3 separate regions of the Homo sapiens genome follow, and regions 1 and 3 are each linked to region 2. Evidence: fine-mapped expression QTL. A gene starts in region 2. Each other region holds a variant in brackets. All regions are shown on one strand. Distances are between the middles of the regions.

Region 1 (6,681 bases), 24 kb after region 2:
CTAGTAGTCAAAATGGGGCAGATGTAGTTTAATATGGGTGGAAAACTGCCCCAGCAAGATACCAGGTTATTTACTGTGGTATCGAAAGCTCTAAGAGAATGGAAGTGGTTCTTTTGCCCGGCTGGAAATAGCAGTGGGAAGACAAGTCTATCCAGACCAAGCCTGTCCATACAACACTGGCAATCAGTTGATGAGGGAATTAAGTCAGATGGGAGACGTCTCAATCTGTCGCCCAGGTTGGAGTGCAGTGGTGGCGATCTCAGCTCACTGCAACCTCCACCTCCCAGGTTCAAGCAATTCTCTCTGCCTCAGCCTCTAGAGCAGCTGGGATTACAGGCTCTCGCCACCATGCCCGGTTAATTTTTGTATTTTTTAGTAGAGATGGGGTTTCACCATGTTAGCCAGGCTGATCTTGAACTCGTGACCTCAGGTGATCCGCCTGCCTCAGTCTCCCAAAGTGCTGGGATTACAGGCGTGAGCCACTGTGCCCGGCCTCAGTTGGGATTTGACAGCTCTGAACCTCAGCAGGGGAAGATTGATGTAAAAATCCACTTGGTCAGAGTGATATATGTAGACTTGATGTTTGAGATGGTTCTCAGTTTAGAGAATGTGGGATATGGTAGAGGTCTTTGTTTTTTTCCCATGTCCCAAAAGGTGCTGGGCAAGTAGCTTGAACTCGAGCCTGTTTTAATTATAAAATAGATCAAACTGCTCTTTCTTGGTGCCCTTACTGCTCCTTGATTTTTAGTGCATTTATTTTGAGTATGAATGCATAAAGTCTGAGGGCCTAAATTTTGTTAATTTTTTTTAACAAATGGGAGAGGGGAATCCTCGATAGTCACCCAATTTTCCTTTTTTTTTGAGACAGTCTGACTGTTGCCCAGGCTGGAGTGTAATGGCGCCATCTCGGCTCACTGCAACATCCAGCTCCTGGGTTTCAGCAATTCTCCTGCCTCAGCCTCCTGAGTAGCTGGGATTACAGGCGCCCGCCACCACGCCCGGCTAATTTTTGTATTTTTAGTAGAGACAGGATTTTGCCATGTTTGCCAGCCTGGTCTCGAACTCTTGACCTCCTGATCCACCCTCCTCTGCCTCCCAAAGTGCTGGGATTACAGGCGTGAGCCACCGCGCCCAGCCCCATAGTCCCCCAATTTTCTAACAGTTTTAAATTCTGTAACTTCTCCTGTCTGTAAACAAGGCTGTCTTTTCAAATGGCTCTCCTACAGGATGTGATAATTATCTATTCTATAAAGCCGAGGTTTGGAGAGGTAAATAGCTATTTCACATTAACACAATAATGTCAATGCCCTATGGAAAAGATAAAATACTTGGACTATATTTTAAAGGGGAATCTGGGGTCATGCATATTGAAGTTTAACTAGATCCCTCCAGATTTTTGGTTTTGATCCTACACATTTAGATACTAGTTTTGGATTTTAGACAGTTGGTGCTGACAGTGTGAAACTCCTATTGCCTGCAGTTAAATTGAAGCTTTGGTTTCTCGTGAACAGGCAGTGAAGCTGGTATTATACTTTAAGTCCTCATTTCAGAAATAGTTTCCCTCCACCCCCAAGCACTACCACACATGGTCTCCCCACCTGGTTTCAGCTAGTGCATTAGTTTTATCTTGTTTTTTACCGCTGGGCAAACCTTGCTGGAACAACAACTGACTTCATGATTTGCACATTTGGAGGGCTTAACGTCTTTGCAAATGAAAAATCCACTGTACAATAACAAGCTCAAAGGAACTCGGAGCCTTTTTAGAAGAAATCGTGCTGAATTATAATGTGGCTTACTGCAATAATGTTTCTTTGATCAGGATGGAAAGGAAAATACTGAGTTTAGCAGAAAACGATGTCTAAATGTATTTGTAATGATACAATTGTTTATAAATGTTTTACTATTAGGTTGAACCATAAGAAATTGCCAGTGTACAATTTCATCTACAAAATGACTGGCTTAACCTAAATTCTGCATTTTATACTCCAAGAATAAGCTCTTCGTGGCAGCTTTCTAAGTGTGAAATGATGGAACTTTCTATTTGCCAGAATGACCTACACTTCTCTAATAGTTTATCTCATATTGTTAGCCAAACGCTGATTAAAATGCAAATTTCAAACTATTGAGTTTTTAAGAGCCTGATGTTTAAAATACATTTTGGTGAACTTTTAGTTAAACTAGCTCATTTATGTTCACACATTTTCTCATTTAGCACCAGAAAGTTTCTTACAGCTCTTTTGCATGCATTCAGGAGTCAAAAGTATTATATGGGGAGGGGAAATTCCCAAATGATAAATACTCTTTACATAAAACTGAGACAGTAGCTGCAGATAATGGCTCCCTTTGAGGAGCCACTTGAAAGAAAGGAAAGGCTGCCTTAAACTCCTTGACTTTAAGGGGCAGCAAGGACCCTCGGTCAGCCACCTCCACACCCGTCTAGCACTTGGTCCCAGGTCCCCTAAGGTCGTCATGGTTCTGTTTAAATAAATACTTCTAGTCTTGGGGAGCCCATCATGTCTTAAGATAGCTCATTCCTTCTTTAGTTCACTAAAGGTATTTCCTCTCACTGAACTAAAAATCTGTCTTCCTATAATTTCAGCCTCCCTCTTACACAACTTGAAGTCAATTAGAGTACATGTCATCACCTTCCAAGTAAAAGATCTTCAGGTATTTCAAGACATGTGCTCCTTGAGATCCTTTCAGAAGACAATTTCCGTTTTCTTTTTTAGAATTTTTAATTTTTTTAATGTACAGAAAAATTTGGAACGTAGATAGTTTACATTCTCATTGTCCTGTCGTCTCCCCTCCAATGTGTCTCTCCTGGGATAGAAGGACTGTCTCTTTTCAAACATGGTTTTCTCTAATCTGGTAAAGTCGTGTTTCCTCCCCAGTGTATTGCACTTGAGACACAACATCTCCAGATCATGGAAACCATCTGCCTAAAATACAGGGGTGGTCCCACGATGACCTCAAGGTCCTGTACAGCACAGAAGTTTTGTAACTGTACTACGGATTCAAGCTCCATGAAATGAGTGTTGACGAATGTTTTCAGATGTAGCCCAACGGGGAGCACACAGGTTCAGTTCACTGATCTAGTACTTCTCAAACTCGGTCATTTGCATGCCACCATCACAATTTTTACCATTTCTGGGTACAACTTGTGCTATTATTACTTAGCAGCTTTCTTTGAATCAGCTTCTTCCACTTGAATGATTTATTTTAAAGGGAAACTGTATATCAGCATAAATGTTAAAACCATTGTCTTTTGTCAAAAAAGAAAATAACCTTAACGCAAATATTTTAGTAGTTCTCTTTAGGCCTAAATACGTACTATTTAAAAGAGTATTATTTAAGGCCAAGTCTCAGCACTTTGGGAGGCCAAGGCAGGAGGAT[C/T]GCTTGTGTTCAGAAGTTCAAGACCAGCCTGGGCAACATAGCAAGACCCTGTCTCTATTTTTTAAATAAAGTTTTTTTTTTTCAAAGAACATTATTTAAATGGTCTGTGTACTACCCAAAATCATCCCAAGGATCCCACATGGTGGTCTGGATAACACGCTTAGGAGAAGACAGCACTAATGGGAAGGTCTATCTTCTGCTACCTGCAGTTGCAGGAGATTTGTCTTTTTAGAAACTATCCCCGGGTCAACAGCGGCTTATAACTCAAGGGCAAATTAGTGAAAGTTAATTCCATGATCACCTAATAATAATAAAAGCCAACATTTGTTGAGCACTTACTGTATGCTCATGCACTTTTTATACTTTTTATTTTCTAATCCCTGAAGATAATATTAGAGTAGATCACTTTACCAATGAAGTTTATATTTGTGATCTTGGGCTTGAGTTGATCAATCAACTCTTACAAACCATTTTTCCTGGAGAGAGGAAAATTAGCCTCAGGCTGTTGTACGAGATATTAAATGACATCAAGATTGAACATCTGTGCTAGGGATTTCATCATTGTGGATCAATAATTCAAAAGACTCAAGACAAAAGAATCCACTCGGAGATCAGTGTTCTTGCAATGGGAGATGTATATGGAAAAACTATTCCTTGTGGAATCCTTTCCTTCTTCCCTCCAAAGCTTTCCATACCACCAAAATGAAAAAGTACACACACACACACAAACACACAGACTTAAATCATTTGTAAGCCTACAATAATAAAAAATACTGTGCTATATAGAGAACTACCCTCATGTCTGATGTATGCTGTGTTATGCGTGCATTTTACCCCTGTTGTGGTTTCCTGTCAATCTGTGAGCAGTGGGGAACCTTTTAAAAGACATCCCTGGTTGGGTGTCAAAAATTTCAGGAAGTACCAAATCAGATGGATTTTCTGCAGAATAACTCTCTGACCTTTAACCACCTCTTCCTGATGTGTGCCGTGGATAGATCTTCCTCCTCCTCAAAAAACACACCACGTATTCTGGGACAATAGCTTTAAAATACCTCCTTGAAGCCATCAAATGTCAGTCAGAGTCTAGGTGGCTGTGGTTGTGGTTCTTAGGTGGGTGGCTCTCAGATTGAGCACAGAATCTCCTAGGGAAGCTGTCTGAACCCCACCCAAGACTACTGAATTAGAGGCTACTAAGGAGAAGCCTAGCAGACTAGCAAAGTTTGGAGAATCACTGATTTGGTTTAATCTCTTCATTTTACCAAAGGGGAAACTGAGGCCCCAAAAAAGAGAAGTGAATGACTCATCTAAGATCCAATTGTCTCAGTGCCAGGGCTGGAATTGTTCTTTACAGCTTCTTCCGGGGAGAGCAGAGCCTCAGGATATTTTTAAAAACATGTTCAAGCCTAGTTGGACTGAACTTTGCCAAGAGTTGGACGTTCTTCAGTGTGCGACACATTCTAATGTTATACTTTTTAATGACATATTATGAATATCATCTCTGTTTTAAAGATGGAGAAACTGAGGTTTAGAAAAGTTAAATAACTTGTCCAAGATCACACAGTTAATTTATGATGGAGACAGGATTCCCACTCAGGTCTATCCGACTCCAGTTCTGTGAGTGATAGGTACCCCATCTATGAGATAAAAACTCAAACTGACAGCCAAGTGACCTTTCCCCCTTCTGCAAATCTTTAAAAGCACCGGTGCTTTTCTCATAACCACTCCAGTTCTTAAAATGATTTTTTTAAGAGAGCGAAGGGCTTAGGAGCAAATGGCTTCTCTTAATAGAGCAGTAATAAAGGCTGGTATCCTAATAGTCGTTTTCCAGATATTTGTGCAGATGGAAACATTCACAATGATGACATTCCAACTTGTAAATACTAGCTCTGTGGGTTTCGGAGGGTTTGTTTTGTTTTGTTCTGTTTGAGATAGTTTCGTTCTGTTGCCCAGGCTGGAGTGCAATGGAGTGATCTCAGCTCACTGCAACCTCCGCCTCCTGGGTTCAAGCAATTCTCCTAACTCAGCCTCCCGAGTAGCTGGGACTACAGCACACGTCATCATGCACAGCTAATTCTTGTATTTTTGGTAGAGACGGGATTTTGCCATGATGGCCAGGCTGGTCTCCAACTCCTGGCCTCAAGTGATCCGCCCTCCTCGGCCTCCCAAAGTGCTTGGATTACAGGCGTAAGCCACTCTGCCTGGCCTAGCTTTGTGTTTTTAAATCATTTTGTGGGTGTTTTCAGCCAGGCACTCCTTAAAAACAGTGTTCACAGCATACCTAATAAACTGTAGTTATTACCCAAAGTATGTGGTTCAACAACAAAAGGTGGGCGAGTGAAAGAATTGATAAATGATCCGACTGTGATGTTATCTGTTCCAAACACTTTGCAACAGAGTTGAACACATCAACAGCAATATATGTGATGCACCAAAGCAGGGGGCTGATGCATGTGGAGCCCCTGGCAACCTGTGCGTGTCAGAAGGGTGCGCTGCCTTGCTGCTGGCTTCAGCCAGGTAATGCCCAAAGTAGGGTCTGTGTGGGTCTGGTCTCTTACCAGAATCGTAGCAAGATTAATTTTTCATTATCACCACCCACTTCGAAAGTAAATTTCATGTTTCCCACTGAGTTTCCCAAGGGAATTGGATAGGTCTACATAAACCAGGGGAAAATGGACAGTTTTAGACACACTTGAAAAAAAATGTGTGTCAGGATAGACACACTTGAAAAAAAATGGATGGGATTCAGGCCCAAAATATGGCACCTTGAAAATAGTGGATGTTTTAAGCTGAACCAATTTCTGAACTTCCCTTGAAGCAGGTCATAAGAACCTCAGGTGACAGGTGCCCTCCCTATACTCAGGGGAAGAGCGCATTTTTATCTGCGAAGAAGAGAAACTGGGCAAACAGGCCTTGCTGAGCTTCCCCCCGCTTTCCCACCCTCAGCTCATCCCCTCTGTCCTATCATATTCTTCCATGACTTTCCACTCTTCATCAAACCCCGTATAAAAACACTCAGGTTTAAACATTTCTTTGGGTCTTCATTTCCTTACAAAAGCCCCTGTATCACATAAAACGTGTATTAAATAAATATATATGCTTCTCTCTTTCTAGCCTGACTTTTGTTACAGAGATCCTGCCAAGAACCTGGAAAGACAGAATTAAAAAATGTGTCCTCCCCAACAAAATCAAAGCGATTTTTTTTTTCTCTGTCCTAGATTGTTCTAGGTCAATGCAACTGGAGCATCCTGCTGTCAGGGTAGTTGCAGCCAGAACACATTTGGAGTTTGA
Region 2 (6,681 bases):
TAGTTACCATAAATATCCTTCTAAAGGCAAGAGCATATGTTCTGGTGTTTGCTTTGGGGGAAAAAAACTCATAATAAGTAAAGTCCATCTTGCTGGATAATTCACTCTTCAGTTTTAGTTTCTTCAGGACTAGAGAACAGATTATTTTTCTATTATCTCTTGCCTATATCCTTCTTTCTTTTCTTTTTTTTTTTTTTTAGAAAGGGCCTCTGTCACCCAGGGTGGAGTGCAGTGGCATGATCATGGCTCACTGCAGCCTTGACCTCCCAGGCTCAAGCGATCCTCCCACCTCAGCGTCCCAAATAACTGAGACCACAAATGTGCACCACCGCACCTGGCTAATTTTTTTTTTAAGAGATGGGGTCTCCCTATGTTGCCAGGCTGGTGTTTCTTAATTTTTCAAATCTTTGGTAGAGAAAGAACCAAGCGAAGAAAATGAGTCATTCATTTATTTACTCCACAAGTATTGAGCATCTAAATGTGCTGTGTACTGTTCCAGATGTCAAAATCTCCACCCTGATGGGAAAAAAAAGACGGCTGGGTGCGGTGGCTCATGCCTGTAATCCAGCACTTTGGGAGGCCGAGGCGGTGGATCACTTGAGGTCAGGAGTCCAAGACCAGCCTGACCAACATGGTGAAACCTCGTCTCTACTAAAAATACAAAATTAGCAGGGTGTGGTGGCACATGCCGTAATCCCAGCTACTTGGGAGGCTGAGGCAGGAGAATCACTTGAACTCGGGAGACGGAGGTCGTAGTGAGCCAAGATCGCGCCATTGCACTCCAGCCTGGGCAATAAGAGCGAAACTCCGTCTCAAAAAAAAAAAGAAAAGAAGAAGAAAAAGACAAAACAAAATAAATTCATAAGAAGTATAGTATGTTAGGTAGCGACAAGTGCTACAGAAAAAGTAAAGCACAGGCCATGAACAGACACCGGGGGTTGGGGAATGAGATGCAATTTTAAAAAGGTCAGGAAACACCTACTAAGAAGGTGACATCTGAGCAGAAACCCAGTGAGAAAGTGTATCAGACAATGTCACTGCTCCACTTAGGTCCCCTCCTTTCCCTTTTTGCCGTTTTTGGGCCACCCCTTTCCTACTATAGGGTGCTTTATTCTTAACATCCAAAACCTGCAGTTTTTCTTCAGAGGACTGCCTAGAGACAACACACAGCGCCTCCCCAGCACTGCACTCGCCCAATCCTCCCACCATAATCCCAAAGGCAGGGAAGAAACCAGGCTGGAGTTGCTGGACGAAGCCAGAAAAAGAATGTACTGAAATCCCTTCTGAGGCCTTTGTGTATCGTACTTTAATCCTTTACATGTCTCTGATGGATATATACATATATATATATATAATTTTTTTTTTTTTGAGACAGAGTCTCGCTCTCTCGCCCAGGCTGGAGTGCAGTGGCGCCATCTCCGTTCACTGCAAGCTCCGCCTCCCGGGTTCACGCCATTCTCCTGCCTCAGCCTCCCCAATAGCTGGGACCACAGGCGCCCGCCGCCACGCCCGGCTAATTTTGTTTTTGTATTTTTAGTAGGGACGGGGTTTCACCGTGTTAGCCAGGATGGTCTCGATCTCCTGACCTAGTAATCTGCCCGCCTCGGCCTCCCAAAAGAGCTGGGATTACAGGCGTGAATATTTTTTAACAAGCAATTTCATGTACATTTTCTCAAGCACCACTCAAGCTGCCTGTCCACGGGGCAGACGACTTCTCCTTTAGTCTTTCTCTTGAATATGCTCTTCAATTTCATTAATCTCTATTCATGAGTATAACAATATTGGAAAAATTGGACAGAGTATCACTTGTTCCTCGCTTTGCAGACTAGAGATGCTTCTAGTCCCTGTTGGCACACTCAGGATGGGGGCTACGGGAAGCCCAAGAATTCAGCCTCTCTCTAAATGTCAACTGTTTTCCAGTAACCACAGGTCAGGGATCCCATACGTTCATTCTCCCTCCACAGTGACCCACAATATCCATCGGGTGTTTATGTATCCAAAGAAGAGGCTACTCATTCCATCTGGTAAACCAACATACTCATGATTTAGTGGAAAGAGCCCTGGAGTGGCACAGAGGGCTGCCTCAATACACACTTACTGAGCGTCTAACAATGAATGGGTCAAGCCCTTCGTAGGCACTGGCAATGGGAAGATGACCAATACAGACGGCTGAACCTTGCTTTCAAGGCCTTCATAAAGCACTGGAGATGACAAACACGGTCCGATACAAAGGGTCGGGTTCAGGACTCCAACCATTATTATCAAAGAGCCACGGGAATACAAAGGAAGGATTACTAGGGGGGAAGTTCCAGGAGGGCATCACAAAGAGACCTCTGAGCTGGATCCAGAAGGACAGATGAGTTTAAGCTGAAAGTGGGGACGGTCGTTCCCGCTGGTGGGAACCGAAGGAGCCGAGGCAGCGCTGAGGCGGAGACCAGGTGGCACCCGCGGCGCTGCAAGGACACACAAGCTGTTGCGAGGGGGTCAACTCTCCGGGCCTTGGCTTAGAAACCTGGGACGATTACACCCTAAAAGCGCTTGGAAAAACTGCAGAACTCGTGCTGATTTTCGCCAAAGCTACTCCCCCGCCGTGAGGGCAGGAAGCCCTGCGAGGCGCCTGCGAGGACGCAAACGCCGCGAAGCAAGTCCTCCACGCCTCCATCCCAGGTTTAGTGAAGTGTAGACTCTGACCCACAGCCTAAAGGAAAGCAAGACCGGAGTCGGGGAGGGCCCCTCCAGGAGCGGGCTCAGCGGGAGTCTGGCCGAACTGCTTGCTGCCACAGTGGTTCCGCGGCCTCGCGCTGAGCGCCATCCGCCGTCTCCCACCGCGGCCCCCACCGCCCCTCCGCAAGGCTCGGCACCTCCCGCCACTTCCTCGGTCGCTGCGGCGGCTCCGGCTCCTCACAGCCGCTAAACCCAGGCCTATTCTGTGTTAGGTCGGGCCTCCTCGGCCCTCTTCGCCGTGACGAATCAGCGCCCGGCTGGGAAAGTATCAAAATTCGGGGAGTTTTGAGGATCCAATGGGTCCTGAAAAAAATCCCTGAGTGTGCTAAGCATCACCGCATCTTCACTAGAAGGTTAGTTTTTCTAAAGAGGGTCGGGTGGGGCCCGGAAAAAAAAAAAAATTAAGAAGAGTGTGGAAAGTGCGAGTGCGGAAGCTCCGGACGCGAGGGGCGGGGCGAGCGCGGGACAAAGGGAAGCGAAGCCGGAGCTGCGGGCGCTTTTTCTGCCCGCGGGTGAGTGTTTCCAAGTGGGACGGACCGGGTCGGTGGGTGCAAGTCGTGGTGTCCCCGCTTGGCTAGACCCCGAGTTCCCGGGGGTTGCTGGGGTTCAGCCTTGGCCGTGGGGCCAGAGCCAGGAGCCGGTTGAGGCCTCCTTGAGGCCTAGCAGAGCGAGGGTTGGGAGGGAGTCCCATCTGGGGCCCCCTCCTTGGAGGCAAGGCCAGTCCCCCGAAATTGGTCAAAGCACCTGTGAATACCCCGTTTTAGGGGAGTTGCTAGTAAAGTACATTCTCCAAGACAAAGAGAGCGACCTCAGGAAGCCGTGGGCAAGGCAGGTCCGTGGTTCACCCCCCACCCGGGCAGAAGGTTCCCCCATTGGTTCAGGCAGCGACTTGAGGACGAGCAGAGCTCTGAAATAGTTTGGCCTGGGTTTGAAACCCAACTTTGGCACTTCCTGGCTGCATATGGCTTCAGACAAGTTGTTTAAACTTTCCGAGACTCCCTTGTTTCATCTGTAAAATGGGGATAGCTGTACATATAAAGTACTTGTGAGTGTTAAGCGAAATAGTGTCATAAGCGTACCCCGTATAAAGTATTTCTTGAACAAATATTTATCGGGTATTTATTTTTATGCCAGGCACCAAAGATGGATCCAACGGTGGACAAATGTACAAGCCCACTCTTAAATTTTGTATTCTAGCAAAAGAGAGCAATAATTTTAAAGTATTAACAATGAAGTATAACGTACAGGGAGCTTATGTTAGTTGTCAGGGTCCCCTGCAGCGAGGCCTGCTGGATGTTGACAGCTCCCTTAATGTGAGCAGAAAGGAAATCTACACCAGAGTCAAAGGTTTCTGGCTGTTCTTTAAGAGGGAAAGACTCAGGTTGGACCATTGAGAAAATGAGCTGTTTCTTTCCACACCAGGACTCATTCCTTATGCTCCAGGGAATTTCCTTAAAATTAATAATAGAAGCGAAAAATCAGATCTATTCCACATGTTTGGTTGCAAATACCTCCAATAGTCATAGAAGTTTATTTGCCTTCTTTCCAAAGATGAATTTTTGTCTTTTTGTACCTCACTATTTGTGATGTATGTTGATGTAAAGAACAAGCTCACATGTGCCTGGTTATGTTGTGAGCTGGTAATACTAGGAAAAAATTTCCTAAGAATTGAGCTAGGTCCTGACATGGTCCCTCTTTCCAAGTAGCATACAATCTAGCCATATTGATAAGTTAAAAAAAAGTTATAATAATATAGATCTGTGTAAACTGTATAGGAATACAGATGGGGGAGCAGTTAATTCTGCCCAGGTAATGTATCAAGAAAGTTCCCTTGAGGAGAAAAATTTTGAAATGGGCTGTGAATGATGAATAAAAGTTTTTCAGGTAGACTCTCAAAATTTATTCCCAGCATTTATGAAGCTATTTACCATTATAAGAGAATGTGAAGTTCATTGTCATACCAATTACCTTTTGCACTGCTTCCAGGAATAAAATGCTGCCTAATTTTAATAAAAATTGTTATCCCAAAAGCATGATACAGTTGCTGATCAGGGAGCTGTCAGTATCTGGTAGGCCTTGTTGCGTTGGACCCTGATAATACATCACTTTCTATTCTCATCCTTGTATCAGTCTGATGAAATGTTTACATGGCGTCAGCAAAATGTTTTCCATACAAGAGGTAGCTTAGTATCACAAGAAAAAACCTGAAAGTACATTTCTAAATATCCCCAGTACTTTATTTTAGTCATTTAATTCTAATCAACCAAATGACCTATAAGAACTAGTTAAAATACACAAAAGGCTTAATTACTAGGAATTAAGGTGAAGTAATTTTACTCAGAAATACCAATTAAATTACCCTATTCATTAGGAAAACATTCTCGTATGCTTGCTGAGTTTTGATTCTCTTTTTTTTTTCCTTTTTTTTTTATTTTAGTGTCTCAGATTCATTCTTAAGGAACTGAGAACTTAATCTTCCAAAATGTCAAGTAAGTTTCAATTTTTATATTTATCAATCTATGTTAATAAGAGACTAATGCCCTAGCAAGTGGGAATTCCAAAATACTCTCATTTTTTTTTCTTCAAAACAGGACCATTGGTAGTTTTGTTGCATAGTATTATATCTCAGTTGTTTACAAGAAGTTATTTATTTTCTTTCAAACAGAAAGACCATCTTATGCCCCACCTCCCACCCCAGCTCCTGCAACAGTAAGTTTTAATTTTCTTGTTAATGTAATAGCCAACTCTGGCCTTGATACAAAAACCCAGATGTCTTCCAGTGACAGTCACTCAATCATCACAGCAACAGGATGAAATTCAGCTTAAAAGAAAAAAAAAAAAGCACTTCCTACTAAATAAAATAATTATTTGCATCTTTCCTTGAACCAACCCCAACATTTAAAGAAACAGTACTGTAAAACTCCAACCTCCTGTGCTCAGTTTGTTTTGTTTTTTCTTTGTAAATGGGAAATAAGTGAAAGTTTTACCATTTCTTTCTTATTAATCTTCACTATTAAGAGTCTTTAAGTTGTTACTGAGTGAATGCTCATTCTGGCTATTTTGTTAAACCTAACCTTCAACTGGTTATGTTTTTCTCTCCTTTCTTGTCTCTCTCTAAAATTTTCATATTAAACAATAAAGCTTCTGAAACTACTCATTGTAAATATTTTCAAGCTGTTCAAGTAAAGATTTCATTATCTATGGGGCAGATCTTGCTATTGAATCTTATTCCACTCCATAAATTATATTTTATTGGTTTGGAAGTATATATGTTTTAAGTAGTTGTGAACGTGTTTTTTCACCCAGGAAGCTCTGGCCCAGCTTGGTCAGCATGTAAAATAATTTTCCAACCCACAAAACAGATTTAGCAGTAACTGTTCAGGTCTTGCTGAAATGGCTTCCTTGTTGGTTTTTTGGGAGGGGGGGTTTTGTTTGTTTTTAAAAAAACACTGTTAGCATGACCAAATTCTACAAAATTAGTTCTTTAATATTAATCCTTCCTTCCATACCCCCACCACCTAAATTTCAGGCTAGTCTACTTTTCACTACTAATTAGGTCCTTGTGTAACTTAGTTTTCTCCGCTAAAAAACTACTCATATTTACTAACCCTCAGATACATATTTTAGTTACATTTATCAACAATTTGTTTTTCTTTAGTGAGATACTTTAGAAAAGAGATACCGTACCATATGTTCTCATTTCAATTTATGTCATATACAGGCTCTAAAGTTAATTCCAGTAGACTATAAAGTCCTATGCTTGCTTTGTTTTCTTTCTTAAATCGAAGAACATTTGTTATGACCATCTCCATGGCATTCTGCTAGTGGCTATACAGGTGGAGCTGAACAATTGAGATTCTGACCTCAAAGAGCTAACCATGTACTTCAGCTTTGGAAATGGTATAATTATAATGTTTTGCTTTCCATTTTTTTTTTTTTAGTTCCCTTATTTTTATA
Region 3 (5,824 bases), 36 kb after region 2:
GGCCCCAGCAGGCCTCTGAGGGAAACCAAGCCATGACACACACTGACACTCTGCTCCGGTGCTGCCCCACACCTCCCCAGCCTGACGAACGCCTGCCCTGCTGTCAGGATGCAGCCCAAATGTGCCTTCCTCTGCAAAGCCTTTCCCAGCATCTCCACTTCCAGAGAGAGACCGACGCGCCCCCGTCTGTGGCTTAGACAGTCTGTGTCTTCTACCAAAGAAGGTGTTTCCAGCCTGAGGCACCATGGTATCCCCCAGAGCCTGGCTCATGATGGGTATTAAAGAAATATTTTTAATTAATTAATTAATTTTTTAACAATAGGGTCTCACTCTGTCACCCAGGCTGGAGTGCAGTGGCACAATCATAGCTCACTGCAGCCTCCAAGTCTTGGGCTCAAGCGATCCTCCCACCTCAGCCTCCCAAGTAGCTAAGACTACAGGTACACTGCTCTGTCTGGATTTATTTTTTAATTTTTTGTAGAGACAAGGTCTCGCTATGTCACCCAGGCTAGTCTTGAACTCCTGACCTCAAGGGATCCTCCTGCCTCAGCCTCCCAAAGTGCTGGGACTACAGGTGTGAGCCACTGCACCTGTCCTGAAGAAATATGTGTTGGCTTTCATATTTGTGCCCCAAGTGACTAATACAATATATTACAGAATAGAAGCTGGGCAAATATTCCATGAATGAATGAATGAATGAATGAATGAATGAATACCAAATGGTTATAGGGCTCACATATGGCCAGCCCTAACGACAGGTAACCTATCTCCCACCATTTATGTTTCCCACAGAGCTTCACAGAGAAGCAACCACTTCACTGGAAAGACCAACTCAACTCAATAAATATTTACTAATATTTACAATAAATATTACAACTCATCCAATAAATATTTACTGAGCTCCTACAATGTATCAGGCTCTGTTCTAGGTGCTGGGGACACAACAATGTACAAAACACAAAGCCCTCTGCCTTAGGGAGTTCCCATCCAGTGGAGAAAGAGGCCGACTGTGCCGGTTGTGTCACGCACACTTGCTCTTTCCACTCACACCTTCCCCCTCTCCACCCCAGGACCCGCTTGTGATCCTGCCTCCTTCCAAGAGAACCTGCACCTTGATTTCCCCTTCCCAGCAAGTCCCTGTCTGTCCTCAGTTCAACTAAGCCACACTACTGCCTTTCCCAAAAGGCAATGGGAACAGGGACCTGAATTCCTGGTCTCATTGCCCTTTGGGCATCTCGATTTCAAATATGCTGGCCCCCTAGTGCCTTGGACCTTCACATTTGCCTGATCATGTGTTGCTGATTTTTAGTGCAGAGCATGTGGTCACCAGAGCCGAGGGCCCTGGACTGGGAGACTCTGCCCTGGACAGTGTCTTCCCGAGGGGTAAGGGATGAGTGAGTCGCGAAGGGTAACTGGAAGGGAGTAATGGGGTGATGGCAGTCATCAGTGGCAGATTCGAGGGAGGTGCTACTTTTGCTTCCTGGTCCTCAGATCTCACTCTGCATCCGCTGACAGCGTCTTCTGCCTTTGGGTGGAACTGGCCCCCCTGTTTTAATTAAACTGAATTAAATAGAATCAGCTTTCATAACTGGATGATGCAGAAATGTCCTGACAGTCACCCTCGCCCGGGGCACCTTGCCAGCACTGGGTCTTTGAAGTGTCCTGATCCCTGGTTTCCTCCTCAGGTGCGTCACTAGCTTCTCTGGCTACCTGGTTTCCGGCAAGGAGTCTGTTAGCGCTCACACTTGTTTTTTTGCAAGCGTTTGGAGAGGAGGTTGCAAGGCTCTGGGATGACAGTTTGCTGGAATGTGGGCACTGTTCTTAGGCAGCATTGCCCACTTTCCCGGGTGGCATGACTACCTCACTAGGCACTGGAGGCGGGTGCTGAAAGGCTCTGAGAGACTCACTTGCACAGAATGAGGGGGTGTGCATCAGCTTTAGAGACTTGGCCAATATGGTTTTCCCACAAAGAAAGGCACCCAGCACACTCTCAATAAAGACTCATTAATTTGAAAAAAAAAAAAAAAAAAGATACAAAATGCCTGAGAACAACTGTCTAAGTTGTCATGTGGTGAATGGTTGCAAAACAATATTATAGCAAATGATCTTTTTTTAAAAAAATTTGTTTCTTTTTATTTAATAATATACCTTCCAGCAAATGACCTTCTCTGAATTAGGTTTTCATGACATGGATTTGTTAAAGGTTTGAAGTGAATTGCATCCTTCCTGAATTACCTTTTCCTGCATCCTCGATAAAGTTGAGAGGCTGGTGGCTCCTGAAAGTAGCAATCATCTTTACATAATCCTTTTCACAACCACAGCACAAGGGAGGGGTGTCAGTATGCTCCCACACCAGAAGAAAGCCTTATGATTCTGCAATCATGGGGAATTCAAAAGATAGTGTTGTGCTGTACGGTCCGCATTTCATAGTTAATAAGTAATATCCTCTTCACTCCTTTTCTTTTTCTGCCAGTAAATTGAGCTTGGCAGGCCTGCTATTTTCCTTATAATGCCAACTGATGAAATTGCCTCCCAAATGCAAGCCATCGTCATTAACACAAGTGTCTCAGAAGGAGATGCAGAAGATGGCCTCCTTCCCCTCCAGCTGGGGAGAGACAGCTGCCACTCTACATTAAAAAGCCAGTTCAAAGAATCAGATATGATAAAGTGTTAGGTTGAAAACTTTCACAAGAACATAAATCTTGCTCTTCGGGGCAACAAGCAGACTCATGTGAATATTCATCACTGTTCCTGGTAAGTCTTGGGTTGAATAAATCTGTCCCTGGACTCATTTCGTTCAACAAAAGGGATCTCGCAAG[G/C]CTCCTAAGACTTTATTTTTCGTTTCTCCTAGTTAGTTAGTTAGAGTTAGGATTTCACTCTGTTGCCCAGGCTGGAGTGCACTGGCTCGATCATAGCTCACTGCAGCCTCCAACTCTTGGACTCAAGCGATCCTCCTGCCTTAGCCTTCCGAGTACCCAGTATTACAGGCACGCACCACCATGCCTGGCTATTTTCTTTTTAATTTTTTGTACAGATGGGGGTCTCACCATGTTGCTCAGGCTGGCCTCAAACTCCTGGCCTCAAGTGACCCTCCTGCCTCAGCCTCCCAAAGCGCTGGAATTACAGGTGTGAGCCACCACACCCAGCCAAGACTCCTAAGGCTTTAGAAATAGTTGCCTTGTCCTCTAATAAGAAACCCCCAAAGAGAGCTGTAATTCTGACTGGTTTTCTCACTTGGGAATGGTTGTCTTGGAAGGAGCATTGCAGCTGACATCTCTGTATTTCTAAACTGTTTTGTGGGCTTTCTCTATGAAATCAGGAGTCACTGCCACATTCCTCTTCTTCCACTTGCACAGTAGGGCAAATGAAACCTAAGTCCATGCTGGCTATATAAACACAACTTGAAAGGCTCAGTTGTTGAAATTAACAGGAATAAGCATTTTTTCCCTATTGAATCACCTATTGGATCATTCAAAATTCACAGTGGGGCCAGGCACAGTGGCTCATGCCTGTAATCTCAGCATTTAAGGAGGCCAAGGCTGGAGATCACTTGAGCCCAGGAGTTTGAGATAAGCCTGGGCAAAATAGTGAGACCCTATCTCTACAAAAAAAAAAAAAAAAAAAGGATTAGCTGGGCATGGTGGTGAGAGCCTATATTCCCAGCTACTTGGGAGGCTGAGGTGGGAGGATCGCTTGAGCCCAGGAGGTCGAGGCTGCAGTGAGCCGAGATTGCACCACTGCACTCCAGCTGGGGACTTGTGCTCTCTCCCTGCTCTCTCTGCCTCTTCTCTCCCCTAGAAGCCCTCCTGGTCCAACCTGAACTTCTCCTTTAGATCCTTCAGTCTTCAGTGTGAAACAAGGTGAGTCTTTATCACTAAATCCCTTTCTCTTTGTTTTGTTTTACCAATGATTTTTCCTCATCTGGGATAAAGGGTGGGGAAGGAAAGAGGGGAGTGAGGGAAGTGAGTGATGGGAAAAGCAATAATCACTCATCACTAACAGTCACTCATTAAAAAGCAGCATCTCAATTAAAACTATGAAACTATGTTCATCGAGTTCAGTCTCACCCTGCAGAGTCAAATTTTGACTTTCAGTTGCCCCCATCAGGTCTAGTTGAGACTGATTAGTCAGACATAAATCATGGAGCTGGCTCATTCTCAGGACCCTTCAGGACTTCTCAGAAGCAGCAGCACTCTCATGTCCACAGTCTATTTCCCTGACCACCCCCAACACACACAAAAAATTACATCTTCTTATAAGTGTAATCGACCTGATTCTGAGAACTGTTCTCATTGGTTGCAGTTTGCTGAAGTGTAACCAACTACTGTGCCCTTGGAGCTCACATCATTCCCTTCCATGAGGCTGCTACTTCTCCATCCCAGTCTTGGCTAATCAAAACCCCACTCTCCACTGGTTAAACACATTCAATACACCCTTATCATGGACCATGAGGCAGGCATTAAAAGTGATGTTGTGGTAGAAAATTTAATAGTTCATGACATATTTATACTATAAAAATAGTTTACCAAACAACAGGTGTTATAAGTATAAACCCATTTTAAACTGTTTTTTTCATGGACAGATATGGTCATCTCTAAAGGGTTTTTATTTTCCCTCTTGTGCTTTTCAACATTTCACAACATTTTACAATGAGTACTTTTGGGTGTTTTTATGTTTTATTTTTTGAGACAGACAGGGTCTCACTCTGTTGTCCAGTCTGGAGTGCAGTGGCACGATTACAGCTCACTGTAGCCTCAACCTTCTGGGTTGCTCAAGCAATCCTCCCACATCAGTCTCCCAAGTAGCTGAGACCACAGGCATGCACTACTATGCCTGGTTAATTTATGTATTAATTTTTGTACAGACTGGGTCTTCCTATGTTGCCCAAGCTGGTCTCAAATTCCTGGGCTCAAGCAATCCTCCTGCCTCTGCCTCCCAAAATGTTGGGATTACAGGCATGAACCACTGCACCTGGCCACAGTGAGTAGTTTTGTAATGGAACAAATGTGAAAAGAAAACATCCTATCTGTTACAGGCTTCATTGTGTCTCCCCACTCAAATTCATACATTGAATTCCTAACCCCCAGTACCTCATAATGGGACTGTATTTGGAGACAAGGCCTTCCTGGAGATAAAGAACACCAGTCATATTGGATTGGGGCCCATGGATATGACCTCATTTTACCTTAATGAAGTCAATGGTGGGCTCTCATCCAATATGACTGGCATCCTTATAGGAAGAGGAGATCGGGGCCGGGTGTGGTGGCTCATGCCTGTAATCCCAGCACTTTGGGAGGCCAAGGTGGGTGGATCACCTGAGGTCAGGAGTTTGAGACCAGCCTGGCCAACAGGGTGAAACCCCATCTCTACTAAAAATACAAAAAATTAGCGGGGCGTGGTGGCACATGCCTGAAATCCCAGCTACTAGGGAGGCTGAGGCAGGAGAATCGCTTGAACCCAGGAGGCAGAGGTTGCAGTGAGCCAAGATCTCGCCATTGCACTCCAGCCTGGATGATAGAACAAGACTCGATCTTGGGGAAAAAAAAAAAAAAGGAAGAGGAGATCAGGACCCAGACAACACAGACCACCACATGAGGACATAGCAAGAAGGTGGCCATCTGCAAGCCACAGAGAGTGTCCTCAGAAGAAACCAGAAGAAACAATGCTGGAAACCCCTTGATCTTGGACTTCTGGCCTCTAGAACTATAAGAAAATAAATGTCTGTTGTTTAAGCCACTGAGTCTGTGGTATTGTTTACAGCAACCCTAGGAAACTAAGATACCACCCATCTTTCAAAGACCAGCTCCAATGCCAGGCCTGCCAC

Evidence for each region. PIP is the estimated chance that this variant, and not a neighbour inherited with it, causes the effect.
Region 1: its variant is fine-mapped to the expression of SMARCE1 in whole blood (INTERVAL, PIP above 0.99).
Region 3: its variant is fine-mapped to the expression of SMARCE1 in whole blood (TOPMed, PIP above 0.99).

What each region holds. Positions count from the first base shown.
Region 1 is chr17:40,620,403-40,627,083 of GRCh38, reverse strand. It overlaps SMARCE1 (SWI/SNF related BAF chromatin remodeling complex subunit E1), which reads left to right. Exons shown (of 11, transcript NM_003079.5): 11 at 1-2,122. Among named protein-coding and RNA genes, the nearest start is that of SMARCE1, 24 kb to the left of the region's middle. RefSeq lists an enhancer at 3,079-3,218. The variant C/T (reference allele first, on the strand shown) is at 3,394.
Region 2 is chr17:40,644,328-40,651,008 of GRCh38, reverse strand. It overlaps SMARCE1 (SWI/SNF related BAF chromatin remodeling complex subunit E1), which reads left to right and starts at 3,191. Exons shown (of 11, transcript NM_003079.5): 1 at 3,191-3,236; 2 at 5,162-5,213; 3 at 5,390-5,433. The coding sequence starts at 5,207. RefSeq lists a silencer at 2,658-2,952.
Region 3 is chr17:40,608,843-40,614,666 of GRCh38, reverse strand. No RefSeq gene overlaps it. Among named protein-coding and RNA genes, the nearest start is that of SMARCE1, 36 kb to the left of the region's middle. The variant G/C (reference allele first, on the strand shown) is at 2,820.